4 separate regions of the Homo sapiens genome follow, and regions 1, 3 and 4 are each linked to region 2. The links come from fine-mapping of genetic effects on gene expression. A gene starts in region 2. Each other region holds a variant in brackets. All regions are shown on one strand. Distances are from middle to middle. Region 1 has its middle 130 kb from the start of MIR5192. Region 2 holds the start of B3GNT2 (UDP-GlcNAc:betaGal beta-1,3-N-acetylglucosaminyltransferase 2). Region 3 holds the start of LOC105374764 (a long non-coding RNA gene). Region 4 has its middle 82 kb from the start of MIR5192.

What was found. PIP is the estimated chance that this variant, and not a neighbour inherited with it, causes the effect.
Region 1: its variant is the best candidate, but not a certain one, in a credible set for the expression of B3GNT2 in blood mononuclear cells (TOPMed, PIP 0.66).
Region 3: its variant is the best candidate, but not a certain one, in a credible set for the expression of B3GNT2 in T cells (TOPMed, PIP 0.68).
Region 4: its variant is the best candidate, but not a certain one, in a credible set for the expression of B3GNT2 in lung (TOPMed, PIP 0.64).

The regions. Positions count from the first base shown.
Region 1 is chr2:62,329,682-62,337,674 of GRCh38, reverse strand. No RefSeq gene overlaps it. Among named protein-coding and RNA genes, the nearest start is that of MIR5192, 130 kb to the right of the region's middle. RefSeq lists an enhancer at 3,442-3,671. The variant T/C (reference allele first, on the strand shown) is at 4,478.
Region 2 is chr2:62,192,297-62,198,625 of GRCh38, reverse strand. B3GNT2 (UDP-GlcNAc:betaGal beta-1,3-N-acetylglucosaminyltransferase 2) reads right to left here and starts at 2,511. Exons shown (of 2, transcript NM_006577.6): 1 at 2,271-2,511. It overlaps LOC124906013 (a long non-coding RNA gene), which reads left to right and starts at 2,613. Exons shown (of 2, transcript XR_007086336.1): 1 at 2,613-3,487; 2 at 3,719-4,637. RefSeq lists enhancers at 1,116-1,225, 2,206-2,812, 3,419-4,026 and silencers at 1,636-1,985, 2,166-2,605, 2,896-3,125.
Region 3 is chr2:62,412,506-62,420,498 of GRCh38, reverse strand. It overlaps LOC105374764 (a long non-coding RNA gene), which reads right to left and starts at 5,306. Exons shown (of 6, transcript XR_002959390.2): 1 at 5,070-5,306. RefSeq lists an enhancer at 5,075-5,144. The variant T/C (reference allele first, on the strand shown) is at 3,231.
Region 4 is chr2:62,284,267-62,292,259 of GRCh38, reverse strand. No RefSeq gene overlaps it. Among named protein-coding and RNA genes, the nearest start is that of MIR5192, 82 kb to the right of the region's middle. RefSeq lists a silencer at 4,092-4,386. The variant G/A (reference allele first, on the strand shown) is at 4,094.

The DNA of each region.
Region 1 (7,993 bases), 140 kb before region 2:
AGGCCCTCCAAAGGGTAGAGGGCCTCTTGCCTGGTCTAAGGGCAATATTGCACTGGCCCCAGATTCCAGGAAATGATGGAGGCCTTGCTTGGGGATTTGTCTATGAACAGTGACTAAGGAAAAGCACTAATGGCTATTCAAACTTGATGTCTATCTCTCTCATTTTTTTTTTCTTTTTTTGAGATGCAGTCTCACTCTGTCATGACCAAGCTGGAGTCCAGTGGCGTGATCTTGGCTCACCACAACCTCTGCCTCCCAGGTTTAAGAGATTCTCCTACCTCACCCTCCTGAGTAGCTGGGATTACAGGCACACGCCACCATGCCCGGCTAATTTTTGTATTTTTAGTAGAGATGGGGTTTCACCATGTTAGTCAGGCTGGTCTCGAACTCCTGACTTCATGATCTGCCCACCTCGGCCTCCCAAAGTGCTGGGATTACAGGTGTGAGACACCACACCCAGCCGATGCCTATCTCTTGACACACCAATCCAGCTTTAGAGAAGATATCCTATAGAAACAAAAGGACTAATAGAGAAGGGTACGTAAAAATGTCTGTCACAAGCATCGCTTAATGTAGCAAAAAGTGAAAAACAACATATACATCATTAACGGGAGATGGTTTCGTGAATTGTGATCTATTCATATTAGCACATGTTATAAAACCATTGAAAAGGTTGTTATATTTATGTTTAGTGACTTGGAGAGATTTCTTTATTGAATATTTACTGAGCATCATCTATGAACCTAGTACTGTTTAAATGCTAGGGATATAGCAGGGAATAAGACAAGGTTTTTTGCTCATGCATTTCACATCTTAGTGGAGGAAGACAGGCCATAAACAAATAAATAAGTATATAGTATCAGCTGGTGAGAAATGCTATGAAGAATAATGGTGGTGGGTTGGGGGATGGAGCCCGGGAGGAAGTGAGGGAAGGAACATTGTGGCCATCAGGAGGACGGGCATTCCAGACTGAGTGCCAAGGCCCTGATTTGGGAATGTGCTTAGTGTGATCTAGTAGCATCAAGGAGGCCAGGGTAGCAGGAGATGGGGATGGGAGGGAAGGTCAGAGAGCAGAGCAGGGATGTTGGGGGGCGGGGGATGTATATGCATGTTGTAGACCACGTAGGGCCTGGCAGCTCCTGGTGAAGACTTTGGTTTTGGTTTTTTTGGTTTTTTACTGATGGGGTCTCACTGTGTTGCTCAGGCTGCATTTGAACTCCTGGACTCAAGCAATCCTCCTGCCTCAGCCTCCCGAGTAACAGACAATGAATGCACTCCCCCCACCTGGCTAAGATAGGTTTTTACTCTGAGTAGAATGGAAACCAGTTAAGATTTCTAAGCTGAGGAGCAACGTGATCTGACAGATTTCAAAGGGTTCCTCTGGCTGCTGTGAGGGGAATGGACTGAAGGGACAAGGGTGGAAGCAGAGAGGGGTGTAGAGGCTGCTGTAGCTAAGTGAGAGAGACAGGATTGGGCTTGCACCAAGTGGAAGCCACGAGGTGGGGGGATGCAGTCTGATTCCAGATGGATTTTGAAGGTGGAGCCTGCAGGACGTCCTGATGGAACTGGATGTGGGGTGTCAGCAAGAAGCCAGACGGCCATTTAATAGTGTTAATGACTAAGGCTAGTTTCAGAGGAAAGAGAGTATAGCCCAATCCCATTTTTGCTCAAATAAACATCAAATAAGACACACTCCCTGTGCACGGATCTTTGTGTATACTAATCCGAGTCTATTAGTTGGCTAGGGCTGCCATCACAAAATACCACAGACTGGGTGGCTTCAGCAACAGAGATTTATTTTCTCAGTTCTGGAGGCCGGAAGTCCAAGATCAAAATGCTGTCAGGGCTGCTTTCTGGTGAGGCCTTTCTTCCTGTCCTGTAGACAGCTGCCTTCTCCTATGTCCTCATATGGCCCCTTCTTTGTGCTTGCTTAGGAGAGAAGTGGGAGCTCTCTCGTGTCTCTTTCCCTTCTTATAAGGACAGCGGTCCTTTTGGCTTTAGGCTGCACCCTTGTGACCTCACTAAATCTTAATTAGCTCCTTGTAGGCCCTGCCTCCAAATACAGTCGAATTAGGGGTTTAGGGCTTCGCCGTATGAATCTGGAGGGACACAATTCAGTCCATAACAATGAATACAGAGAAAGCTGCAGAAGGACATCCACAAGCCATTGCACTCCAGCCTGGGTGACAGAGCAAGACTCTGTTTCAAGAAAAAAAAAAAAAAGAAACCAACTTTCTAGCAAAAGGATCCAGAACATACCATGGTGAAGAGAGTTTCTTTCCTAAACTCCCCTTTCTGCCTAAAAGCAGAGCCTCCCAAAAGAATGCAACCATCATAGATCCCCTTCCCAGAGGTTTCCCAACCATGGAAGAGTGACTCCCTTCACCAGAGGGGAAGCCACAAGGCTATAAAAACTCTCCTAAATAGACATGGTCACAAAACTATCATATCTCCCTCATATCTATTTGCCTTAGGGCCCATTTATCTTTTCTAGAAGTCGCTGGTTTTCCAGTCTCCTTTCTCTCCATCCCCTTCTCCTATTAAGGGTGTATATTGTGTCATAAAATGTCAGAGCTACCGCCAAAAGACAAAGGTCTTTCATCTGAGAGCCTGTGAAAAAGATATATAAGCCCCCAATCCTAATCACCTCTTTGAGCCACATTTTTCTGTGAATTCCCATGTATGTATGTGAGTAAAATTCTGTTTTTGTTTTGCCAATCTGTCTTTTGTCAGTTTAATTCACAGGCCTCCAACACTGAACCTAAGAGAGTGGGGAGAAAGTGTTTCCTTTCTCACAGCTGTCACCTCCTCAGAGGGGTTTTTCCCTGGCTATTCTATCTCAACTAGGCCTCTTTCTCCTTTTTGTTTCCCACAGCATTTACCATACCTTATTCTGACTTTATTTGTCTGTTTACTAGGTTTTGGTCTGCCTTTCAGTAGAATGTAAGCTGCATGGAGGCGTATAATACAAATTCATTAACTACTCAGTGAATGACTGGATGAGGAAATCCGTCATCCTTGGCTCAGGTATTTATTGGTGAGTCTACAAGTGGCAGCTCAGTTCAGCACTCACTCACTGAGAACTTATTAGGTGTCACGATGGTGCTCGGCGTTAGGAACACACAGAGGCCCACTCCCTGTCCTCGAGGAGCTTACAGGAAAACAAGCAGCTATGCTGGGCCCTGGGAGAGGCAGGTATGAGCAGGAGAACCTTACTCTTCCCTCAAGAAGTTTACTGGTATAGGAGGCAGGGAAGAGAAAAAGGAAAACACGTGATAAGGAGCTTGGAAACAAACATGACTCCAAGTACAGTTATTTAGTACACAAATAAAACAGAGATGGTTAAACTATTCTCTAGGCCTTTGTTTAGGGAATAATTCACATCATTCTAATTACAGGGTTGTGAGAATAACAACAGTGTTGGATGGAGCTCATGGTACTTCTGCTTCATTTAGACAAATCTGCCTAAGGAGAGCCCATCCCCTACATACACAGACCCGCTGACAGGCATCGCTGGTTTCTCTTGGAAGCTTTCCAAGTGGCAAGCCTGGCGCCTAGGCTAGTCTTGGAGCCTCTAAAAAGCCTTTCAGGGCTGCCTCCCTACCTCAGTCAGGGCCCCATTAGCTATAAAGGCCAGAGATATACTGAAATTACCCCACCCCTCAAAGAGCACGTAAATAAAAGGGAGAATTTATTGAAATTATTTCAATGCACAGGAACCCAAGAGAAACTGAATAACTAGGCCAGGCCTAGTGTTCTCCGAAAGTGTTCTCATTTCTTCAGATTCCTGAGTTTAAATTTCCATATTCCCCTATTCTCCCCCCAGGTCAGGTGTCCGTGCTGCGGTACAATCATCCCACCCCTGTAAAAACAAGGCCCCCTAGGCCAGAGGAGATAACTCCAAAAGACAACCAGATGGGTGGAGTGATCAACCTTTGTGGTTCATCTGGGACTGAGGGATTTCATAGGGAGCATGGCTTTTAGAGCTAAAACCAGGAACGTTCCAGACAAACCTGGAAAAGTTAGTAATAAGTTCAGCCAACGTCACATCCGTTTCATGCCCATACATCATTAATTTTTTTTTTTTTTTTGAGATGGAGTCTCGCTGTGTTGCCAGGCTGGAGTGCAGTGGTGGAATCTTGGCTCACTGCAGCCTCTGCCTCCCGGATTCAAGTGATTCTCCTGCCTCAGCCTCCCGAGTAGCTGGGACTACAGGCACGCGCCACCATGCCCAGCTAATTTTTGTATTTTTAGTAGAGATGGGGTTTCACCGTGTTGGCCAGGATAGTCTCAATCTCTTGACCTCATGATCCACCCACCTCAGCCTCCCAAAGTGCTGGGATTACAGGCGTGAGCCACCGCACCTGGCCCCCTTCATCATTAATTTTAAGCAACACATTTCTTCATATTTAACATCACTGAAACCAGGATGTGTTTTAAAATGAGTGGCGTCCTGCAATGCGAAGCTGAGTTCTCC[T/C]GGAAATGATGCACAGCTGCCAGTCACTTCTAGGTCACCACCAACCTGAGACCACATTAAATTAATTTTCAGCTTGACTTTTTCAGACCACACTGACAGCATGAATTCAGACCTCAAATCTGCATGAGCACAGGCTCGTGGTTCAAATTGTCAGGAGAGAATTGTTGTTCCTCCCTCCACAGTGTCAGGATTGAGACGTGCGCATTTCCAGCCTGCCACTCCTGTGGGAAGACTTATTTTCTTACAGCATCCCAGCTTTTAAGTGGTGTCTCCATATTTGGCTTTTTTTTTTCTTGCATAATGGTACATAAAATAACAGTGCAGCTTACAGTGGATGGTGTCTCCAGTTGGATGAAATACGGGTAATCCTCAACCCCCACCAGCCGCTAGTGCTGGAAGGAGGCTCAGTTCTGTGGAACCCTGGCTTCTCTGGGTGGGAAGAGAATGCTGTCCCGGGTACCTAGGGCTGGATCCTGAGGATATAGAAAGAGTTCTCTCTTGGCCCTGATGAGCTTTTCTCTGAGCTCACTGGCTTGCAGAGCCTGGCAGCCCATTTGGAAAAGTTCTTCACCAGTCTCTCTAGACATATCAGTGTTTAGATAGCCTTCCTTCCCTACAAACACAAAGCTCATTTGTTTGAAATGTTGCAAAACTCCTCCTAACCACTGCCACATGTAGAAAACCCATGGAAGCAGAATTGTAGGAGAATAAGAAGGAGAGGCAGTGTTTCAACTTGAAAACTGGTAGACATGCTTTTTTTTTTTTTTTTTTTTTTTTTTTTTTTTTTTTTTGAGACGGAGTCTTGCTCTGTCGCCCAGGCTGGAGTGCAGTGGCGTGATCTCAGCTCACAGCAACCCTCTGCCTTTCGAGTTCAAGAGATTCTCCTGCTTCAGCCTCCTAAGTAGCTAGGATTACAGGTGCACACCAATACCCCTGGCTAACTTTTTTGTATTTTTAGTGGAGATGGGGTTTCACCATGTTGGCCAGGCTGGTCTCAAACTCCTGGCCTCAGGTGATCCACCTGCCTCGGCCTCCCAAAGTGCTTGAGCCACCATGCCCCACCTGGTAGACATGCTTTCTAACCCCCAGGTTTTCTTTCCCTCCCCCAGGGTGTTCAGCATTTCCTGAATATGTGATACCCCATCCCTATCCTCAGCTCATTCAGTTGACCTTTCCCCAGTCCCCCACCCAAAGCCACTCACCCTCAGGCTGGCTCACCTGTCCTCAGACCCCATCGTTTGTCTTTCTGTGTTGGGGCTCAGGACACACCACCCAAAAATATTACTGTAGGAGACCCAAATATGCCACCCCAAAATACACTTCATTGGTATATTTTGAGCTGGTTATTCTGAGAAACTGCAGACAGGGGTAGCTCTGAAAAGCTTTCTTTTTATAAAAAAAAAAAAACACATCTATAAAGGAAGTTTACCTTAGTAAAAGTATCTGTATTAGGAAGAAGGCTGCTTAGACAAGCTTTATTACCTGAGAGACTTTTCATCTGTGTAAGGTAACCCCCCAGAAGCCCCAAGCCCCTGTTCCTTTCTGTAGCTCAGGATGCTATATAACCTCCAATCATTTGGCCCTTCTGTGACTCTCCTGTTTCTGTGGGTCTCCCATGTGTATGCATGGAATTAAACATGTTTTTCCCCCTGTTAATCTGTCTAATGTCAATGTAATTAGTAGCCTAGCCAATGAACCAGAAGGATAGAGGAAAGCCATTTTTCCTCTCCAATACCTGGTATCATTTCCCAGCTTCCTGAGTGCCAAGGTCTGAATGTTTGTGTTCCCCCAAAATTCCTCCTCTCTGGTTAAAATCCTAACCCCCAAGGTAATGGTGTTAGGAGGTGGGTTGGGGGGGCCTTTGGGGGTGATTAGGTTGTGAGGGCTGTGCCCTCATGAGTGGGATTAGAGCCTTTGTAGAAAAAGCCCAGGGAGCTGCCTTGCTCCTGTAAACCAAAAATAAAATTCTAAGCCCCGCACCATCTGCACAGACCCCTCCTCTTGGCAAGGGCATTCCAAAGCTAACCTGAAAAACTAGTTCAGGCCATGATGGAAAGGAGGGGTCAGACTGCCTCCCTATACCCTCCTCCTTTTTGGAATTACTGATAGAACAGACTCTTTAAGTCTGATAAGAAACATTTACAATCTATTCTCTCTGAAGCCCACTACCTAGAGGCTTTACCTGCATGAGAAAACCTTGCCTCTACAACCCCTTATCTTATCCCAGGCATTCCTAAGTCTTTAGACAATAACTTAACTCTTTCAACCAATTGCCAATCAGAAAAATTTTTGAATCTACCTATGACCTGGAAGTCCCCCACTCCTTCCTGTTGTCCTACCTTTCTGGACCAAACCAATGTACATTTATGTGTATTAGATTGATGTCTCATTGATATGGTTAGGTTCTGTGTCCCCACCTAAATCTCATCTAGAAGAGTAATCCCCATAATCCCCACATGTCAAGGGAGAAACCAGGTGGAGGTAATTGAATCAAGGGATAGTTCCCTCCATGCTGTTCTTGTGATAGTGAGTGAGTTCTCATGAGATCTGATGGTTTTATAAGGGACTCTTCCCCCTCCGCTCAACACTTCTCCTTCCTGCTGCCTTGTGAAGAAGGTGCCTTGCTTCACCTTCTGCCATGATTATAAGTTTCCTGAGGCCTCCCCAGCCATGCTGAACTGTGAGTCAATTAAACCTCTTTTCTTTATAAATTACCTGGTCTCAAGCCATTCTTTATAGCAGTATGAAAAAGGACTAATACACTAATGTTTTCCTAAAATGTATAAAACCAAACTGTGCCCTGACCACCTTGGGCGCATGTTCTCAGGCCCTCCTGAGGGCTGTGTCATGGGCCATGGGTCACTCATATTTAGCTCGGAATAAATCTCTTCAAATATTTTACAGAGTTGGACTCTTTTCATCGACACTCCTTCTACCAAGTGAGGACACATTGAGACGGCGCCATCTATGAACCAGGAAGCAGACCTTCAACAGACACTGAATCTGCCAGAACTTTCATCTTGGGATTTCCCAGCCTCTACAACTATGAGAAATACATTTCTGTTGTTTATAAGCTGCCCAGTGTATGGTATTTTGTTACAGCAGCGTGAATCAACTACTTCCAGCCCAGGGCAGGGACTGTGTCCCCCTGCTGTGTTCAAAGGCAGGGCTCAAACCCAAGGCCAGCCACAGTGAAGCCCCAGGTGGGTGTAGAGGCCTCTTGCCCTGGGGGGAAAGTGGTACACCTTATACTCTGCAACGACCTTCCCAGCTCTGCCAGACCACCCGGGCTAAGGAAAGGGAAGGCAGGACAGGTATGCAAACTCCAGGCTCACAAAGAATTCTGAGGTTTTGTGAGCGCTAAGAATCCAGTTTACGCAAAAAGAGTTTACTTTGTCTAGTTTAACCTAAACCATAAGAGTTGAAGGTATTGATAAAGTGGGACTAGGCGTCTGGTTTTGGTGAAAGAGCCCTGGATTTAGATTCAGAGATTAATATCCAAACTCTGCATTTCTG
Region 2 (6,329 bases):
AAAAATTCATAATTTTTGAACAACAAGCAAATCATGCTTATTTTCCTCAAAATACTACTTAGGTTTTAAGAACCTTCTGATGTGCATCTGCCAAATGTGGCTGATTTCAGTCTCAGACAGGGAAATCTAAAAGGCTACCACAGGGTTACTGTTTTTGGTAAGGGGAAGTCGATGCCAGGAGGAACTTCTCTATTGATTACAGCAATGACCACCATTTATTAAGCACTTCTTAGCTCTCCTGGTGCAGTGCTAGGAGTTTGGCAAACATCCTATTTGTCCTCAGAAATAATCTTGCAGAGCAAACACCACCATCCCCAAAACCAGATGTGTAAAATGAGGCTCAGGTGAAGAATAACTTGCCCAAGATCACTGAATTAAATGTGGCAGAATCAAGTCTAATGAATGGCAAGGGTGAGAACTGGTCAGTTTCACAGAGAATTAGGCCTTCATCATACAAATGCCGCCTGCACAAAAACTAAATGAGAAACAGTGAACCCTTGCTGTAGGGAGAAAAAGCAATATTCCGAACTAAAAAAGTAGTTTCAAACAGAAGATCTAATGATAAACACATTTGTAAAGTCTGAGCAGGGAGGAAAAGGATTACTCAAATTACTCAAGTACAGCCCTATGGGGCTCCTTCACTTCTGTGTTCTTAAAATCTAATCTGGTTTAAGAGCGCATGGGCTCCGAGTAAAACTCTCCCAAATTCCTCCAGGCTTAACCACCCTCTACTCAAAAGAACCAGGAGCAGGAGTTAGGACAATGGGAAGTGACCGCCCTGCCCTGCCCTGCCGGTCCTCCCTCCGGGTCAGCTGTCAGATCCGCATGGGTGCGACTATAAGCCGGCACCGGAGCCCCGGGACTGGCTCGGCCAGGGTCCCCGCCTTTTCACTCCCAGTCCCGGCCCTGTCGGCCACCTCGTTTACCACCTCCAGAGGCACAAATAATTATACCGGAAGAATTTGTTTTAACAAGTAGAATTCTATATTCACCAACTGGCTTCGCTATCGGATATTACGGTAGGGTTCCAACAAGAGAAGGGCAAAAGAATATAGTTTAATTGTTCTAAACAATCTTTCTGAGAAGTTGGGGTGGCTGAGGCGGCCACGGGGATACAGCTCAGGCACCTGTGAGCTAAGCCCACTCTACAAACTAACCACCCCTACGTTTTGGGCAGAAGAGCGCCGCCTCGCCAACCCAGGTTATAAATGTACATATTTTTAAAGATGAGCTTTGACGCTGTGACACTTGTGGGGAGTCTCCCGACGGCTCCTCTACTTGATGGGGGTACAGGGAGTTCTGCGGCTCCCCAGCCCCGAGTTTCAAATACCGTGGCCTGGAAATTAACCGGGTGACTCGGTTTATTGCCTCCAGAAGGGTCCGCCTGCCGTGCTGGAGTAGCCGCCAGTCCCGCGCCCGCAGCCCCGGCAGGGCCCCCCACGCCCACCTTCCCACGAGGGGTGTCTCGTAGAGTCCGGCTTCAGGCGCTCCCTGGCCTGGCAGCACCCACCCCACCCCGCCCCACCCCACCCCCACGACTCGGGCTAGCAGCCTGGTTAATCATTCAACGCAAACAGTGTGGAATATTTTTTTTAAAAGGTCAAAGCGAAAGGTTTTCCCTAAGTTTGGCAGAAACCAGTTTTGGGGGAGCCGGAGACAGAAGTGGCAGAGGTTGGGGGTGGGGGGTGGGGAGCGGCTGCCGGCGGCTCTTTGGCTCACAAAACACCTGATCTCCCCATGCGGCACGGGAGGCCGGCGCAGTGCGAGGGTGGGGTGCGGGGGTGCGAGCGAGGAATCACGCGCGCCCCCCTCCCCGAAATGCCCGCGCGCCCCGGATGAGGAGGCCCGGCCCCAGATGCCCCTTGCCAAAGCCCGCATCGCCCCGGCGCCGGATCCCCCGGAAGTTGGGGTGCAGCGAGGAGGGGGAAGGTCCCCGGGCTCCAGGGCGAGGTGGGCACGGAATGGGTTGGGAGGTTCCAAAGCCCCGCAGCGGGCGGTGTCCCTCTCCTCTCCCTCTGGGCTGAGGTTGGGTGGCTGGGACGGCGGGAAGGTAAGGGAGGCTTAAATGCGGCAGGAGCCACCTAGGGACGGCTTCCTCCACCGGGGCGCGGGTACGAAGCCGGAACCGGCGAGGAACCGGGCGGGGGTAGCAGGGTGTCCGGAAGGTGGGGCCGGGAAGCAGGGAGGCGGAAGGGGACTGGTAGAGGGGCCTGGCGGTGAGAGGGCAGCGGGGAGGGAGCCGGCGGGGGTGCTCGGCGCCCGGGCCCTACCTTGTCCGGGAGCAGCTCCAGCTCGGCGGGGCGGGGGCAAGGGCGGGAGATCGCGGCCACATCCACGTCCCGGCCGCTCCGCGCGGCTCAGCCCGGCGACCGCCGCAGCTCACGCTCCATGCGCGGCGCCCCGGACGGGCGGCCCGGCGGTGTCGGCGGCAGGGACTGCTCCGGCTTGGCTCTGCTAGCCTCCGGCACTTGTTGCCGCTGCTGCCGCTGCCGCTGCGCCTCACTCCAGGCTCCGGTTCCAGGCGCAGCAGCCGCCGCGGGCGCCCGGCCCCGCCCCTCCCCTGCCCGCCCGCCAATGGGGCCCGGCCCCGCCCCTCACGTCACCGCCCGACGGCCCCGCCCCGCGCCCCAAGTTTTGGGAGGGTTCCGCTCTCCCCACCCGGTACCAGGACCCACCCGGGCCCGCGCTCCCTGCGGCTTCCAGGGACCCTCCAGCCCCCACGCACCCTCCTGCAAAGCCGAGGGTTAAGCTGGGGAAAGGGGGCCTCTAGGAAGGCGACCCCCCTGGAAATGCCTGGCAGCTCCAAAAACACTAATGAAACTCAGCTCCAGCCTCCGCCCCTCCAGTTGTGGGTGGCCCCTCTTGCGGTTCGTCTGAGGCTAGGGGACTAGGCGCATCGCCTAGCGAGACTCCAGTGGCCTTTTCTGTCCAGTTTGTAACCGGAACTAGACCGACCCCGGCCGCCCCCTCCAGTGCTGGGGCGGGTGAGGAATGGCCCCGCCGGGGAGGCGGGGGAGGGAGGCCTGGGCCACCCTGGGGTCTGACCTTTGCTCCACCTCTTAGGTGCTCACGACCCAGAGTGGTGCCCTGCTTGGTACTGCCACTGGATCCTCTGGCTTATGAAGCCGTCCAGGACAGGAAGGGTGGGGGGTGGTCCTTAGTTCTCTTCGTGGGGTCATGCAGAGTGGTTTCCTCGAGGTCCCACGCCCGTCTCAGGAAGCCAGAAACGCAAGATGCCGGGCGCTCGGCCCGAACCCGTGCCGCGGCCCAAGGGGCAAGGCGGATACCGAGGCAAGGCCTAAAGGGCCGGACTCTGACCGCACCCTCCGGACACTGCAGGGCTCCGCCGGCCAGAGGCGGCCTTGGCGCCAACCACACCTAGCAGCGGGGTCCCCGGGCCCACCGATGCGCCCTCCTAGCCCCGCGCTCCTTCGAGGGGTTCCAAGGTGACTCAGAGACGCAGCTGACACAATTCTGAGGCCCCCAGGTAAGCCTGGCGATACCGGATGGAGAAGTTACCTGGTCTTGAAAGGCCCAGTCCAGCCAGCGAGACCCGCGTGCGCTCCGCGGGGAGGCAAGCCTAACCAGGGGCTCACCTGGAAGCGTCCCCGCCCCCTGGTCCTTATCTCTGAATCGAAACCGAACCTGGACCCATCTAGATAATTGGACTGAGCAATTAAGGACGCTTCGCTCCTAACTGTTAGCATTTTTTCCTAAGGCTCTCGGAGGCGGAATCAGCTGGAAAGGAACATTGCTAAGTAGGAATTTCAGGCACCTGTGAACTGAGCCCACTCAATAATCGGCCCTTTCCCTTAACCAAACTCAGCAAAGGAAGAAAGACCAAGTTGCTGCGGATGCACAGAGCCACGTGGGTGCGGGTCCTCTAGAAACAGGAATTCAGAGTCAGTAGATATGGAAATGTTATGGTTTGCAGTCTTCGGACCATGCTGCTTTCATGCTGTTCACATGATTCTCCTCGGACTGCGAGGTAAAGTCCAAGAAACAAGTCGAATGTTTGTATTTTCATAGAAAAAACATCTGTAAGGGTGCACACCGACTGTTAACCACGGTTACGCGGGGAGGGGAAACAAGGGAGTTACATTTTTTTACTCCCTTGACTTTGGATTTTGTATTTTTCCAGTTGTATTTACTTTCATAATTTAGAAAGCTAATAAAACATGTTTAAAGAAACAGAAGCTAGAAATTCTCTAAGAACTCTAGGAAGTAGAGGCCGGGCGCGGTGGCTCACGCCTGTAATCCCAGCACTTTGGGAGGCCGAGGCGGGTGGATCACAAGGTCAGGAGTTCGAGACCTGTCTGGCCAACATGGTGAAACCCTGTTTCTACTAAAAATACAAAAATTAATGGTGACATGTACCTGTAATCCCAGCCACTTGGGAGGCTGAGGCAGGACAATCGCCGAACTCAGGGAGGCGGAGGTTGCAGTAAGCCGAAATCGTGCCACTGTACTCCAGCCTGGGTGACAGAGTGAGACTCTGTCTCAAAAAAAAAAAAAGAACTCTAGGGAGTATAAATTAATAAATGAAGTCTATGTCTTCATTCTGTATCAAAATAATATTGAGTCCATGTTCCTGGGTTTAAATAAAGATATCTCTAGGCTGCTGTCTGATATTTAAATGCAGTGTTGAGACAAAGCGGACATCTAAGGAAGATTTTCTGTGCCATCAGATTGGTATATTGTTTCCATGCATATGTGTCTTCCCTTTAAATGCACTCCCTGTAGCCACAGACATGCTTGCAAGAACGGCCAGCCAAGGAGTTTATAGTAAAGGAGCTGCTACAATGTCAGCTGGCAACCAACTAGGAAATTAAGCTTGTGTCCCTCGCTGCCCAAGGCTGCCCAGGCCATGAAATTTAAAAATAAGGGTATTCTTAGGCCAGGCACGGTGGCTCATGCCTGTAATCCCAGTACCTTGGGAGGCCAAGGTGGGCGGATCACTTGAGGTCAGGAGTTCAAGACCACCCTGGCCAACATGGTAAAACCCCGTCTCTACAAAAAATACAAAAAAATTAGCCAGGTGTGGTGGTGGACACCTGTAGTCCCAGCTACTTGGCAGGCTGAGGCAGGAGAATTGCTTGAACTCGGGAGGTGGAGGTTGCACTGAGCCGAGATCGTGCCACTGCACTCCAGCCTGGGCGACAGAGCAAGACTCCGTCTCAAATAAATAAGGGCATTTTCTCCATGGTGGCTTTAACACAGTTGGGAGTATATCTACAATAGTTACCTTGTGTCTTTTGGGGAGTAACTCAATGCTAGATTCCACATCGCTTGGCTATAGTCCCTACTGTTAGGTTGGGACCCAGGTCCATCATCAGTAGGCAGAGATGTGTTATTCACTTATTCAACAAAAATGTACTGGCCATCCTCTAGATGCAGCACAGGACTAGGCGCTGGAGTGGTGAACATGGCAAACACACTCCCTGCTTGGAGCTCACAGTCTAGCTGGAGAGAGGGGCTTAACAATTAAATGCACTATTAATTAATTACAATTGTGATATGGGCCACAGGGAGTGCAAGGTGGTGAGATCATCTGGGGAGTCCATGAGGAGTTCCTGGCTGGTTCAGACTATAAAGGAAGAAGTGGTTGAGGAGGAAGTTAGAGAGGCAGGCAGGGGTTAGATCACGCAGGGCCAGTACACCACATTACAGAGTTTGGACTTTATCCTGAGACATTTGAAACAAGAGTCATACACTCAATTTTGCATTTTGAAGTAGATCACTCTGACTGCAGTGTGAAGAAGGAATAGGGAAAGGGGAAGAATGGAATGGAGGGACAGTTAGGAGGCTGTTGCTATAATGTGAGAGGGGCCATTTGTTTAAGCAGTAGAGCAAATGTAGAGAGGTAGACACCAACGAGACTTGGTAATTGCTTAGGGGGGATGAATCAAGGAAAACTCCCAGATCTCTGCTTCTTTAACCAGATGGATGGTGGTGCCATTTTCTGAGTTGGAGAACCCTCTCAAGGTTCAAATTTGGTCAAAGTAGGTTTGAGGTGCCTGTGAGATGTCCGGGTGGAGATGTTGAACAGGTGGTTGGCTGCAGGGTCTGGGGCTCTGAGGAGAGGCTGGGGCTGGAATAGCTGGTGTGGCAGTGGTAATGAAGTCACCAGAGGCTTGTGGGCTCCTATGAGAGTGTACAATTAGATCAGAAGAGGACCTACCACTGAGCCTTGAGGAACTCTTATCTAAGGGCCAGACAGAGGCAAACCTCTGGCAGAGGAGGTGGAAGAGCAGCCAGAGAGGCAGGAGGAAAACCAGGAGCTTGGCCAGGTGCAGTGGCTCACGCCTGTAATCCCAGCACTTTGGGAG
Region 3 (7,993 bases), 220 kb before region 2:
TCTAGATTTTCCAATTTATTGGCATATAATTGCTTATAGTAGCTACTAATGATTCTTTGCATTTCTTCAGTATCAGTTGTAATATCTCCTTTTTCATTTCTGATTTTATTTATTTGGATCTTCTCTCTTTTTTTCTTAGTCTAGCTAAAGGTTTGTCAATTTTGTTTAACTTTTCAAAACACTAACTTTTTGTCTTGTTGATCTTTTATATAATTTTTTTCATTTCAATGTCATTTATTTTTTCTCTGATCTTTATTTTTTTTTTCTTCTACTAATTTTGGTTTTGGTTTGCTCTTGCTTTTCTAGTTCTTTAAGACGCATCATTGATTGTTTATTTGAAGTTTTTCCTCTTTTTTGTTGTAGGCACTTAAAGCTATAAATGTCCCTCTGAGTACTGCTTTTGCTGTATTCCATGGGTTTTGGCATGTTGTGTTTCCATTGTCATTCATGTCAAGAAATTTTTCAAATTCCCTCTCAATTTCTTCATTGACTCATTGGTCATTCAGGAACATATTAATTTCTATGTATTTGTATAGTTCCCAAAATTCCTCTTGTTATTAATTTCTAGTTTTATTCCATTGTGGTCAGAGAAGATGCTGGATATTATTTTGATTTTTTTGGATGTTTTAAGACCTGTTTTGTGACCTAACATGGTCTATCCTTGAGAACGAGCCATGTGCTGAGGAAAGGAATGTGTATTCTGCAGCCATTGGATGAAATGTTCTGTAAATACCAATTAGATCCATTTGGCCTATAGTGCAGATTAATCTGATGTTTCTTTGTTGATTTTCTGTCTGGAAGATCTGTCCAATGCCGAAGGTGCGGTGTTGAAGTCTCCAGCTGTTATTGCACTGGGGCCTATCTCTCTCCTTATCTCTAATTAATATTTGCTTTATATATCTGGGTATTCCAGTGTTGGGTACATATATATTTAACATTGTTATATCCTTTTGCTGAATTGACCCCTTTATCATTATATAGCGATCTTTGTCTCTTCTTATAGGTTTTTGTTTCAAAATATATTTTGTCTGATATAAGCATAGCTACTCCTGCTCTTTTTTGGTTTCTGTTGGCATGGAATATCTTTTTCCATCCCTTTATTTTCAGTGTATATGTGTCTTTATAGGTGAAGTGTGTTTCTTGTAGGCAACAGATCAATAGGTCTTATTTTTTCATCCATTCAGCCAGTCATTCTATGTCTTTTGATTGGAGAATTTAGTCCATTTACATTCAATGTTATTATTGATAAGTAAGGACTTATTCCTGCCACTTTGTTATTTATTTTCTGGTCTTTTTTGTCTCCTTCCTGTTTCCCTTTAGTGAAAATGGTTTCCTCTGGTGATATGATTTAGTTTCTTGCTTTTTATTTTTTGTGTATTAATTGTATGAGGTTACCATGAGGCTTGCAAATGCTATCTTATAGCACATTTTTTTTTGAGACGGAGTCTCGCTCTGTCCCCCAGGATGGAGTGCAGTGGCATGATCTCGGCTCACTGCAAGCTCCGCCTCCTGGGTTCATGCCATTCTCCTGGTTCAGCCTCCTGAGTAGCTGGGACTATGGGCTCCTGCCACCACGCCCAGCTAATTTTTTGTATATTTAGTAGAGACGGAGTTTCACTGTGTTAGCCAAGATGGTCTCCATCTCCTGACCTCGTGATCTGCCTGCCTTGGCCTCCCAAAGTGCTGGGATTACAGGCGTGAGCCACCGCGCCTGGCCATAACACATTATTTTAACCTGATAACAACTTAACACTCTGCATAAACAAACAAGCAAAAAGAAAACTAATAAAATCTCTATGGCTTAACTTCATCCCCCAGCTTTTTAAATTTTTGTTGTTTCTATTTATATATCTTTTTTTTTTTTTTTTTTTTTGAGACAGAGTCTCGCTCTATCACCTAGGCTGGAGTACAGTGGCATGATCTTAAAGCAATTCTCCTGCCTTGCCTCCTGAGTAGCTGGGATTACAGGAATGCACCACCACACCCAGCTAATTTTTGTATTTTTACTAGAGACAGGATTTCACCATGTTGGCCAGGCTGGTCTTGAACTCCTGACCTCAAGTGATCCACCCGCCTCAGCTTCCCAAAGTGCTGGGGTTACATGTGTGTGCCACTGCACCTGGCCTATTTTTATCTTATTTTACTGACTATGTCTTGAAAGGTTGTTGTAGTTATTATTTTTGACTGGTTCATCGTTTATTCTTTCTACTTAGGATAAAAGTAGTTTACAAACTACAGTTACAGTGTTATCATATTCTGTGTTTTTCTGTGTATTTACTATTGGCAGTGAGCTTTGTACCTTCAGATAATTTCTTATTGCTCATTAATGTCCTTTTCTTTCCAATTGAAATCTCCCTTTAGCATTTCTGGTAGGATAGGTCTGGAGTTGATTAAATCCTTCAGCTTTTGTTTGTCTGGGAAAGTCTTTATTTCTTCTTCATGTTTGAAGGATATTTCACCGGATATACTATTCCAGGGTAGTTTTGTTTCCTTCAGTATTTTTAATATGTCATGCCACTCTTTCTTGGCCTGTAAAGTTTTCTACTGAAAAGCCTGCTGCCAGATATATTTGGGCTCCATTGCATGTTATTTGTTTCTTTTCTCTTGCTGCTTTTAGAGTCTTTTTTTTATCCTTGACTTTTGGGAGTTTGATTATTAAATGCCTTAAGGTAGTCTTCTTTGGGTTAAATCTGCTTGGGGTTCTTGATTATTTACTTATTGACAATATTATTGTTTTCTGCTAATAACAAAACAACAGCCAGCTAGTTCTAGAAGCTCCTCATGCAGATTATAGGCCTCCTCCCTGGATGGCTGTTGGGTTAGATTACAAAGAATGATTTCTAATCCTCTATTTTATTATTATTATTATTATTATTATTTTGAGACAAGATGCTGCTCTATCACACAGGTTGGAGTGCAGTGGTGCCATTACAGCTCACTGTAGCCTCAAACTCCTGGGCTCAGGCAATCCTCCTGCCTCAGCTTCCCAAGTAGCTGAGACTACAGGTGCACTCCACCATGGCTGGCTAATTTTTTCATTTTTTTGTAGAGACAGGGCCTTGCTGTGTTGCCCAGACTGGCCTCAAACTTCTGACCTCAAGTGATCCATCTGCCTTGGCCTCCCGAAGTGCTGGGATTACAGACATGAGCCACCGAGCCCAGCCCAATCCTCTCTTTAAAAATGACTTTTCTTATTATCTTTTTTTTCTGACTAAAAAGGAAATTTCTTG[T/C]GTTAGTTTCCTATTGCTGCTATAACAAATTATCATACACTTAGTGGCTTAAAACAGCACAGATTTATTATCTCATAGTTCTGGAGGTCAGAAGTCCAAAATGGGTCTCTCTGGGCTAAAATCAAGGTGCAACAGGACTGTATTCCTTTTGGAATCCATTCACCTTTTGCACCTCCTAGAGGCTTCCACATGCCTTGGCTCATGGCCCCTTCTTCAAAGCCAGCCATGGCTGGTCAAGCCTTCCTCACATCATATCACATCACTCTGACATTCACTCTTCTGCCTCCCTCTTCCCCATTTTATTTATTTATGTATTTATTTTGAGACAAAGTCTTGCTCTGTCACCCAGGCTGGAGTGCAGTGGCGCGATCTCAGCTCACTGCAAGCTCCACCTCCCGGATTCACGCCATTCTCCTGCCTTATCCTCCTGAGTAGCTGGGACCACAATCGCCCACCAACACATCCAGCTAATTTTTTTTTTTTTTTGTATTTTTAGTAGAGACGGGGTCTCATCGTGTTAGCCAGGATTGTCTCAATCTCCTGACCTCGTGATCTGCCCGCCTCGGCCTCCCAAAGTACTGGGATTATAGGCGTGAGCCACCATGCCAGGCCCCTCTTCCCTGTTTTAAGGACCTTTGACATTGCACTGGACTCCCCTGGATGATCCAGGATACACTCCCCTTCTCAAAGGCAGCTGATCAGCAACCTTCATTCTATCTGTAGACGTAGTTCCCTTTTGCCATGTAAGCTAGCATATTCACAGGTTCTGAGGATTACGAGGTGGACATCTTTGATGTTATTATTCTGCCTACAACATACACATTCCTTGTAGAAAATGTAGGAATACAGAAAAGGCATAAAAGAAAGTACATGACACTTCTAATTCCACTTCCTGGAGATAACCACTGATGATGGCTTAGTGTATATTCTTCAAGTCTTTTGTTCAGTGCATATGTTTTTTTCTTTGTAAACTAGGTTTGCATGATAATATATAATCATTAATGTTAAATTACTATATATAGTGAATTACTAAATATATATAGTATTTAATATTAAATTACTAAACACTATATATATTACTAAACACTATATATAATAGTGTTATATATAAAAAATGTTTAGTAATTTTCCTTAATAATATGCATATATTCCCATGGAACTATATATTTTTCCACATTTCATTTTAATGGCTATCTAGCATTCTACTGTGTGGAATGTACTATAATTTATTTAACTAATTTAGTTAATTCTCTGTTATTAACCACATAACTTATCTCTAGCTTTTCTTTAAGCCTGGTACCCCTGTGGTAAACATCCCTAAATCTACATCTTTGTACATATTCTTAGGATACATTCCCTAAAGGCACACCAAAGGTTGGGTGATTATATCATTTATTCTACAAAGCAGGATTCTTTGAGAGTGAAAAAAGATAATATTAAAAATCCATAGTAATTAATAAATAACAATAAGCCAGGACTGTTCTGGGCGTGACACACATTGCCAGATTGGCCTCCTGAAATGTTTACACTCCCACGGGCAGCTACCAAATGTCCTTGCTCTAAGCCCTTGCCAATGCTGCCAGTCCTATACCCCTACACCCTCTTACTCTCTAGATCCCATCTTCCAAAAAACAACAACCACACACACTGCAAATACCATGAGAGCCCTCACTGGAGATGTGACAGTGGTTGGCAGAGCTGTTTCTCATGGCAGGGAGAGGACAAGTAAGTCTTTGCCCTGGTTAACAATGATTTGACATTTGGTGAGTTCATTTTGTCTTCTGATCCAGGTACATCCACTGGATTAGTTTCAAGGCAGCAATGACCTGCCTTCCTTACCTGCACACAGGCCCAGGTACAGGCTCAGCCAGAAGAGGAATCTCCCAGGAGGGCCTCTCCCCAGGCCCAGGCAGGGAAGCACTGCCATGGATAGCATCTGCCAGGACAAGCTGACCTGCACAAGAGACAGTCCACCGTGAAGAGCCGAGCATGAGTTGGCAGCTGCTGTCAGCTCAAATTGTCCAGTACGCAAACTTGGTCTTCAGAGGACTGACTTCCTCTTGGATAGAAGAACCCTCTGAAACCATGACTGTCAAGAACACACCCAAATAAAGCAGCTGCCGAAACCACAAAAACAGAAAGACTAGATTCATTGTGAAGATGTTTTCTAACATTCAAATGGGCTTTTGTTAGTTTTGTTTTTGATTTTGGTGGAGGTCATTTGAGTCTTGTTATCAAGGTTACAAAGTGCTCTCTGGGAAAAGATCCGGGCCCATTTACCAGGCTGCCTTGCCTGGCTTTGCTTCTCGGGTATGAAATGAACATTGAGAATGCAGACACTGAAGAAAAGACCTCAGGTATCTTTGACTTTTTTTTTTTTTTTTTTTTTGAGACAGGGTCTCAATCTGTCACCCAAGCTGTAGTGCAATGGCACGATCTAGGCTCACTGCAACCTCTGCCTCCCAGGTTCAAGCAATTCTCCCACATCAGCCTCCTGAGTAGCTGGGATTACAGGGGCGTGCCACCACACCCAGCTAATTTTTGTATTTCTAGTAGAGATGGGGTTTCACCATGTTGGCCAGGCTGGCCTTGAACTCCTGACCTCAAGTGATCCATCCACCCTGACTTCCCAAAGTGCTGGGATTACAGGCGTGAGCCACCATGCCCAGCCTATTTTTGACTTTCTGAGTCAAGTAACCAGATGAAACCAGTCCCCTTGTCCACCCAGAGTCCACTCAGGCTATACTTGATTCATACTTTTTTTTTAATTTTTATATTTTTTTTAGAGACAGGGTCTCATTCTGTCACCCAGGCTGGAGTACAGTGGCACAATCACGGCTCACTGCAACCTCGAACTACTGGGCTCAAGCAATCCTCCTGCCTCAGCCTCCCAATTAGCTAGGACTACAGGCACGTGCCACCATGCCTGGGTAATTTTTTAATTTTTTGTAGCAATGGAGTCTCACTATGTTGACCAGGCTGATCTCAAACCCCTGGTCTCAAGCAACCGGCTCCCTTTAGCCTCCCTAAGCACTAGGATTACCGGTGTGAGCCACCACACCTGGCCTGATTCATATGCTAGACTCATATGCTAGAAAAGCCAACCCCAAATGGGCCCTGATAGAGCAATCTTGTTGGGGACAGTTTTACTTGTAAGTAACTGGCTCCCTGACCTACAGAATATAAGCCTTCAGAAAAAGCTTCAGAAAAAGCTCAGCACCCTGCCTCTCTCCTCCAAATAATGTTCCAGGTGATATTCTGCAAGCACACCTGGAAACTTTGCTCTGTTTGTTAACCTAGAAAATTAAATGAGCAAGGGACAGAGCAGGCTGGCCTGGAACAGGGACTGGGTACAAACCAGATCTCCAAAGCTTGGGCTTATTCTCTGAAAGAAATGCTCTTTTTAATTTCAACTCTGATGTCTTGGTGGAGACATTCAACTGGAGATCTGGAGTCTTTGATATAAGCAAAGGCAAGCTTGTGGGATCACCACTGGCTACAGAAAGAAGCCCAGCTCTTTGGCAAAGAAAATCCTGGGCTCAGAGAGTGAAGAGTGTGTCAGATTTCTCACGTCAAAAGTCAGCTTTTGTATTCAGAATGGAGCCAGAAGGTCCTGAATCCAGAATGGCCTAGAGCCTCCCCACATGCTGTCCTAGCGGGGGCTTTAGCAGGTGGATTTTGATAAAGATAGCTTTGGATGCTAAGCATAGAAAAAAAGAGAAATGTTGGCTCTAGGCTGGGTATGGTGGCTCACACCTGCAATCCCAGCACTTTGGGAGGCCAAGGCGGGTGAATCACTTGAGTCCAGGAGTTCAAGACCAGGCTGGGCAACATGGCAAAATCATCTCTACAAAAAATACAAAAATTAGTCGGGCATGGGGTCACCCACCTGTAGTCCCAGCTACTAGGGAGGCTGAGGTGGGAGGATCAATTGAGTCCATGAGATCAAGGCTGCAGTGAGCCGTGTTTGCGCCACTGCATTCCAGCCTGGGTAACAGAGAAAGACCTTGTCTCAAAAAAGGAAAAAGAAAAAAGTTGGCTTTAGCACCTCGAACCCTAGATGACTTCCTGAGTGTCATATTCTTTGGCTGCTACTCTGGAGTCACATCTCAGGGAAGATCCAGACAGACGGCTTTGGTCTTTGTGTTTGTAGGTCCTTTTTCCCTCAGATACTCACCTGCCCTACTCCCTCACCTCATCTATGCCTTTGCACAGATATTAGCAGATATCTGTGCTGATAAAAGTTGCGACTGCACCAGGCACAGTGGCTCACACCTGTAATCCCAGCACTTTGGAAGGCTGAGGCAGGAGGACTGCTTAAGGCTAGGGGTTCAAGACCAGCCTGGGCAACACACCAAGACCTTATCTCTGAAAAAAAAAAAAAAAGTTGTAGCTCATCAATTACCCTATCTGAAATAGCCCTGAATCCCCTGCCTTATTTTCCTTTATTGCACTTGTTACTACATCCCATTATATTTTACATGTATGTGTTTAATATTTGCCTCCCTAGTTAAAATGTAAAGTGCATGAAAGGAGACATTTTTATTTATAGTCAGGTCCGCAGATCTTAGGACAGTGCCTGGCACATAATAAAAGCACAATAAATATTTGTTGAATGAGTCTTAGAGTTGAGTCAAACATCAGATAGCAGGTATTTCTACTGGGCAAATGTGGACTCACCCCAGAGGTGTGTAGAAGAGGGTGCAGAGTCTGGAGTAGTTTGGGGTGTAGGTGTCGGGGGAGAGGCAATTGTCTCGGGTGGA
Region 4 (7,993 bases), 93 kb before region 2:
TGCCACTGATACATAACGAGATCGCTTTGATCTGAGAGTGCTCCAGAGCTAGTCTTCTTTTCACTAGGGATGAATGAAAAACACACTGTTTTTCCTCTGCTCTCACACCACAACCATCAGCCCAGAAAACCTGGGTGATCAGATGTGTGGGGATTTCTCTCTACCAATAAGCAGGCAAGCAAGCAATTCCACAGCAGATGCCAGCTGTTCAATCACGATTTACCTGGAGATAGTGTCAGATCCCACAGGTTGAGGGTTCATCCTCACAAGACTGCCCCCCAACTTCCAATGTCAATCACAAGCCCCATTATTTTAATCACCTGACAGGTTCGTCCCACCCACTGCACAGACAAAACCAATTCACTAAGACCGTGGTACTGCAGTAAAGAAATAGTTTAATTAATGCAAGGCCAGACACATGAAACAACTGGTGTTATCACTCTAATCAGTCTCCCTGAGGGCTTGGAGGCTAGGGTTTGTCAAGGATAGTTTGGTGGCCAGAGAACTAGAGAATGGGTGCTGCTGATTGTTTGGGGATGCAATCATAGGGGCGTGGAAAACAGTTCTCGTGCCCTCAGTCGGCTCCTGGGTCAGGGACCGCAGGACTAGTTAAGTCATGAGTTATAAGTCTCAGTGGGGTCAGTTGGTTTCCAGAATACAAAAGTCTGAAAAAGATCTCAAAAGACAAATCTTAGGTTCTACTATAGGAGCAACTGAGGAAGTTGCAAACCTTCTGACCTCTGGCCACATGACTCCTGAGCAGCAAAGAATTGTAGAAACTATGCCTATATTTTAGCAGAATTCAGTCCTTTCCCACAATCCTAATTAGTCTTGCAAAGGCAGTTTTAGTCCCCAAACAGGGAGGGGATATGTTTTAGGAAGGGACTGTTATCATCTTTGCTTCCAAATTCAACTATAAACTAACTTCCTCCCATGGTTAGCTCAGCCTGTGCCCAGGAATGAGTGAAGACAGCCAGCCTGTGAGGCCAGAAGCAAGATGGAGTCAGCCATGTTAGATTTCTCTCATTATCACCATCTTTGCAAAGGTGGTTTCATTATTTTGTCTGTGCTTCTTGCCAACTGGCTATTGATCCAGGTTCCCATGCCCCCCTCCTTGGGTTCAATTAATTTGCTAGAGTGGCTCACAGAACTCAAGGAAACACATTTACCGTTTTTTTTTTTATAAAGCTTATTACAAAGGAAATGAAGAGATACATAAGTTGAGGTATGGAGTCTGGAGCTTCCGTGCCCTCTCAGTATTTGCCACCCTCCCAGAACCTCCTCATGCTCAGCTGTCCAGAAGCTCTCTGAACCAGAACTTTTCGGGTTATTATGGAGGCAGGCATGATTAAGCCATTGGCCTTTGGTGCTTAACCCAAACTTTAGCCCCCTCTCCTCCAAATGAAGAGATGCATAAGATAAGGAATTGCAGGGAGAGCTGAAAGTTCCATCCCTCTAATCCTGCCTTGGTCTTTTTGGTGACCAGCTCACATCCTGAAGTTAGGTAGGGGCTGCCAGCCATGGATCAACTCATTAGCAAACAAAAAGACTTTGGAGTTCCCAAGGATTTTAGGAGTATGCTAGGAGACCGGAATAAGACTCTCTCTCTCTCTCTCTCTCTCTCTCTATATATATATATATATATATATATGTGTGTGTGTGTGTGTGTGTGTGTGTGTGTGTGTGTGTGTATATATATATAATTTTTTTTAGATGGAGTCTTGCTCTGTCACCCAGGCTGGAGTGCAGTGGCACAATCTCAGCTCACTGCAACCTCCGCCTCCCGGGTTCAAGCGATTCTCCTGCCTCAGCCTCCCAAGTAGCTGGGACTACAGGCACCCACCACCATGCCTGGCTAATTTTTGTATTTTTAGTAGAGATGGGGGGGTTCACCATGTTGGCCAGGCTGGTCTCAAACTCCTGGCCTCAAGTGATCCACCTGCCTCAGCCTCCCAAAGTCCTGGGATTACAGGCATGAGCCACCACGCCCGGCCCAAATATATATTTTACAATATTATACTAGGCCTCTTCTCTTCACTAGCAAGTCTCCTCCACCCTGAGCATCTGGGAACCAGGTCTGCGCTGGTCCTTCATACTCCCCACCACAGCCTCCTGAGGTGGGAATTAGCACCCTGGGACAACTGGAACTCCAAGATTAAGTAAACCTAAACCATTTGTCTCCACCTTGTCTTTCTGCCAATGATCTTTTGGACTCACATGTAGGTCATCCCATGTCCCTGTTAAAAGTAATTTTGAAGCCAATCACAAAAGGCCACATATAGCATGATTCCATGTGTATGAAATGTCCAAAATAGGCAAATCGATAGAGACAAAAAGTAGGTGAGTTGTTGCCTATAGCTGGGGGGTGGTTGAGGGATGGGTGACTAAAGGGTACAGGGTTTCTTTTTGAAGTGATGAAAATGTTCTAAAATTGATTATGAAGATGAACAGGCAACCTTTGTGACTGTACTAAAAAACACTGAATTGTGTACTTTAGATGGGTGAATTGTAAATTATATGTCAATAAAGCTGTTAGAAGAAAAACCAATGATTTTTGCAGATTTTGACCCACAAGATGATCTGCCATTTGCTATATTACATGTGGATATATATGATGTCTCTGTGTCCACTCAGTTGGAAAAGGCCTCCGAGGCCCATTTGGGATCTCACCTGCCTACTCCAGCTGTGAGCATGGAAGGGAAATGAGCTATTTGGGTTGTCAAGAATGTGACAGGAAGGGATCAGCAGAGGCTCTAGGTGGAGGCAGGATGAAAACGTGGAAGCCTTGCACCACACGTTGCACCACAGCCCAGACTCAGGCTCCCAGAGCTCTAGGCTCTCACTGGGCTGGTGGTGAAATGGTGGTGCTGTGAGGTCTCCATTTCCATTGAGAAGTCAATAGAAGATCTCTCAAAGCTGTACCTCCTCCTCTCTCGGGAGGGTTCCAGGGCCCCTGGACAGTCTCCCTAGACATAAGTGTGCCTTAAGATATTTGTGCCCTTTGCTATGTGGGCCTGGGATGGCCACAGCTCTTGGGCTGGTAAGCTCAGGCCTCTAGCAACCTATCCAGGGCTTCGAATTTCCTACAGTGAGCCATGTAATGCTGAGAGGTGAAAATGGTTGGCTGACATGGTTGCTTTGCCCAGTGGTTTTCAAAGGGTGGTCCCAGGACCAGCAATATCAGCATCACTTGGGAACTCTTCAGGAATACAAATGCTCAGGCCATCCCAGACCTATTGAATTGGAAACTCCACAGGTAGGACCCAGGAATCTGTGTTTTAACAAGCCATCCAGGGGAGTCTGATGGACATGAAAGTTTGAGAATCATGATATAGATCCTGAGGTCCCTGAAGCAGAGGGACACATGCTGGTTCTGGATTGCATCCCCAGCACTAGCGACGTCTGCTATAAGAGGCGGTCATGAAGATTTTGTTGAATAAGTGAATGAACGCATGGTTTAGCTTATTTGTGATGGACTGCTTCTCTCTAACCAGCTGCCAACGAGAATATTTGCAAGCTGATAAAAAGAGAAGGGTGTGAGTATATCTGATCGTTCACTCCAGCTTCTTGTTGGCTCTGTTTGATCTCTGAATTATTAAGCAGGACTCATGGCCCATTTCACGTTTTCTTTTTAGAGATGAGGCCCTGGCTCTTTGACAATTTTTTTTTTCTAACCTCCAGAAACAAAAGCACTTTCCATTTGATTTCAGAATCAAGTTCTCCCACTACATCATTCTGGCCCTGGAAGGAAAAGGAGGATGCAGCTAGAAGGATGTTTTTGCATTTTCAAGTTCAAATGTACTCAAATTATTAAACATCTGGCTCTCAGGAGAACCAAGAAACACAGGCCAAGCACTTCTTAGAAATCCTGGGGGATGGGCAGGTTATGCACAGCAAATAGTAGGCCCATTTCCCATTCAGAGTTAGCCAGTGGCCAGAGGCTGGGTGGAGCTTGGTGCCTTCTCTCCTTGGTTTTGGATTATGGGCTGACTTTCAGATTCTCTGAAACTGCCACCTCCCTCAAATTCCCCAAAGCCAGGATTTCTTTGGGCTCACACCTCCTGAAACTAGCTGCTCTGTCACCCAGTGTGGT[G/A]CCCTTTCTCCTGTAACCACATACATTTCAGCTGGTGAGAGACTGGCCCCAGACAGACTGGGCACAGTGCCAGGACACTGAGGCATCCTCTGTTTCAGGAGCTCCTGGCTCCCTGCCACCAGCCCCACCCCTCACGAGGTCACCACACTCAACTGACAGGCACTAATCACCCTCTGAGCCATCTCACCCACAATGGACATCCAACACCCTCTATCTTTTTAGAACCAGACCCCTGCAGCAGTCTAATAGAACAACCAGGCTAAGAAACTAATTGCCCCAGGCTGGGTACGGTCGCTCACACCTGTAATCCCAGCACTTTTGGGAGGCTGAGGTGGGCAGATTGCTTGAGCTCAGGAGTTCAAGACCAGCCTGGTCAACATGGCAAAGCTGGGCATGGTAGTATGTCCTGTAGTCCCAGCTACTTGGGGGACTGAGGTAGGAGGACCGCTTGAGCCCCAGAAGTTGAGGGTGCAGTGAGCTGAGATTGCACCACTGCCTGGGGGATAAAGTGAGGCCCAACAAAAAAAAGAAAAAGTAACTGCCCCTTGTTTTCTGGGCTGTAGGCGCATAATGAAAAAAATGAACTATACCTCTCCTCCTATTGGATAGCCAGGCCTCAAGTCCTGGGGCATGGGTTTCCCCTACCCAGAGAGGTGAAGGCTTTATTTTTAGGAAGTGAGTAAAGAGCTGGTGGGATGGCTTGGAAGGAGGCTAGAGAAGGAAGCAGCCAAAGTGGAGGGAAGGATGAGGTGCGTGAGCCATCGGCCTTCTGCAGGCCTCATGACTGGGGGATCTGCACCCTGGGAATGACACGTCCTGAAGGTCAGCGACTGTGGCACCAGAGGCAGAGGCCTGAGAACCTCTGCAAAGAAGTGTCCTAGCTTGGTTTGAAGGAGGAGGAGTCAGCCGGGCGCGGTGGCTCACGCCTGTAATCCCAGCACTTTGGGAGGCCAAGGTGGGCGGATCACGAGGTCAGGAGATCGAGACCATCCTGGCTAACACGGTGAAACCCCGTCTCTACTAAAAATACAAAAAAATTAGCTGGGCATGATGGCGGGCGCCTGTAGTCCCAGCTACTCGGGAGGCTGAGGCGGGAGAATGGCGTGAACCCGGAGGCGGAGCTTGCAGTGAGCTGAGATCGCGCCCCTGACCTCCAGCCTGGGCGACAGAGCGAGACTCCATCTCAAAAAAAATAAAAAATAAAAAGAAAGAGGAGGAGTCATGAGCATGGATGAGATCAGAAGGGCTGTGGACAAATTGCACGAGGAGAAGCAGCCAATGCTGGACCGAAGACGGGGCCTCTTCCCTCTTCCCTAAGACAGTGTAAGCCTGGGCGTCACATGCACACCTTGGGCTGGGTGGATGAAGTGGGGGAGGAGGGAGGAAATCCTAAACAATGACAGAGACTGATTTCCCACTAACCCTAGTGGGGGGAGCATATGAATTTGATTTGTCATTTCTCACACTTTGGGATTCTGAAGAATATTTCACCTCTCCAATAGACTGTAAACTCCTAGTGACAGGGGACAGGTCTTTCACTTTTTACAGAATACCCCTCCCTGGCACTTAACAGTGACAGGCACATCGTGGGCGATGGATTGACTGGGAGCGTATTATCATTTCTACATGGTAATTTTCTTCTCCTGATTCTCCTCCTCCTCTTCTACCGTTCATCTTCTTGCTATTTCTATCCCTACTCCTCTTCCTCCTCTACTTCTACTGCTTTTTAAATTAACTTTCTCAGGTATAATTTGCATACAATTGAATGTACCTTTTTACTGTGCAGTTCTATTAGTTTTTAGATGCTCACTCCATCACAGTCAAGTTGGAGAACATTTCCATCACCCCCTGATTTCCCTTGACTGCCTCCTCGCAGTTAATTCCTTCTCCCACCCCCAGCCTCTGGCAATTTCATGTCAATAGACTCACACAGCATATACTCTTCTGTGTATGGCTTTCTTTGCTTAGCATGATGTTTTTGAGAAGTATCTATGTTCTTGCATGCATCAGCGGTTTGTTCATTTTATTATTGAGTAGTAGCCCTTGTGTTGAAACTGCCTTTGCAAAGACTATGATAGTGAGAGAAATATAACACAGCTGACTCCATCTTGCTTTTAGCCTCGCAGGCTGGCATCTTTGCTCATTCCTATGCACAGGCCAAGCTAACCATGGGAGGAATTTAGCTTACAGTTTAACTTGGAAACAAAGACGATAATAGTCCCTCCCTAAAACTAACCTCTGCCCCCTTGCTCAGGGACCAAAACTAATGAAAGGCCATAAGATTAGGATTATGAGAGGAGACATGAACTCTGCTAAAATATAGGTGTAATCCCTTCCCTCCCCTTCCCCTTCCTCTTCCCCGCCTCCACCTCTCCCTTCCACTCCCCTTTCCTTCCTTTCTTTTCCTTTCTTTTTTGAAACCAGGTGTCACTCTGTCCCCCAGGCTGCAGTGCAGTGGTGCCATCACAACTCACTGCAGCCTCAACCTCCCAGACTCAAGTGATCCCCCTACCTCAGCCTCCTGAGTAGCTGGGACTACAGGTGTGCACTACCACACCCAGCTAATTTTTGTATTTTTTGTAGAGATGGCATCCCATCATGTTGCCGAGGTTGGTCTTAAACTCCTGTGCTCAAGCAATCCTCCCACCTCAGCCTCCCAGAGTGCTGGGACTACAGGCATGAGCTATTATGCCCAGCTGTAGGTATAGTCTCTATAACTCCTTACTGCTCAGGAGTCACATGGCCAGAAGTCACAAGATTTGTGATTTCTCCAATTGCTCCAACAGATAACATCACTATTGTAGAACCTAAGATTGGTCTTTTGAGATGTTTTTCAGACTTTTCCATTCTGGAACCCAACTGACCCCACCTGGACTTGTGACTCATGACTCAACTGGTCCGTGGCCCCCGACCCAGAGGCAGACTCTGTGCACAAGGACTGTTTTCCATACTCCTATGATTGCATCCTCAACCCAATCAGCAGCACTCGTTCCCTAGTCCCTCACCCACCAAACTATTCTTTAAAAACCCTAACTTCCAAGCCCTTGGGGAGACTGATTTGAGAGATAACACCAGTCCTTCCACTAGGTGGCCTTGTATTAATTAAATCCTTTCTCCACTACAATACAACGGTCTCAGTGATTTGGTTTTGTCTGTGCAGTGGGCAGGAAGAACCTGTCAGGCAATTACAGTATGACTATACCATAGTTTGTTTATTCATTCCTCTGTTGATAGACATTTGGGTCATTTTCAGATTGGGGCCACTATAAATAATGCCATGAACATTCATGCGTAAGTCTTTTCATGGGCGTATGTTTCATTTCTCTTGGATAAATACCTAGAAGTGCTAGGTTCCATTGTAAGTATATATTTAACTTAACTTTCTGAGAAACTGCCAAACTATTTTCCAAAGTGGTTATACATTTTACATTTCTACCAGCAATGTATGAGAATTCCAGTTGTTCCACATCCTTGCCAGCAAGATTGACAGTTGGTTCTGTCAATCTTTTAATCCTAGTCATTCTAGTGGTTAGGTAGTGGTATTGTATTGTGGTTTTAATGTGCTTTCCTCTGATAAATAATGATGTTGAGTACCTTTTAGTATGTTTATTGATATATTTTCTTTTTTTTTTTTTTTTTGAGATGGAGTTTCACTCTTGTTACCCAGGCTGGAGTGCAGTTGCACAATCTCGGCTCACTGCAACCTCTGCCTCCAAGGCTCAAGCGATTCTCTTGCCTCAGCCTCCCGAGTAGCTGGAATTACAGGCATGAGCCACCAGGCCCAGCTAATTTTTTGTATTTTTAGTAGAGACAGACTTTCACCATGCTGGGCAGGCTGGTCTCAAACTCCTGACCTCAGGTGATCCGGCCATCTCAGCCTTCCAAAGTGCTAGGATCACA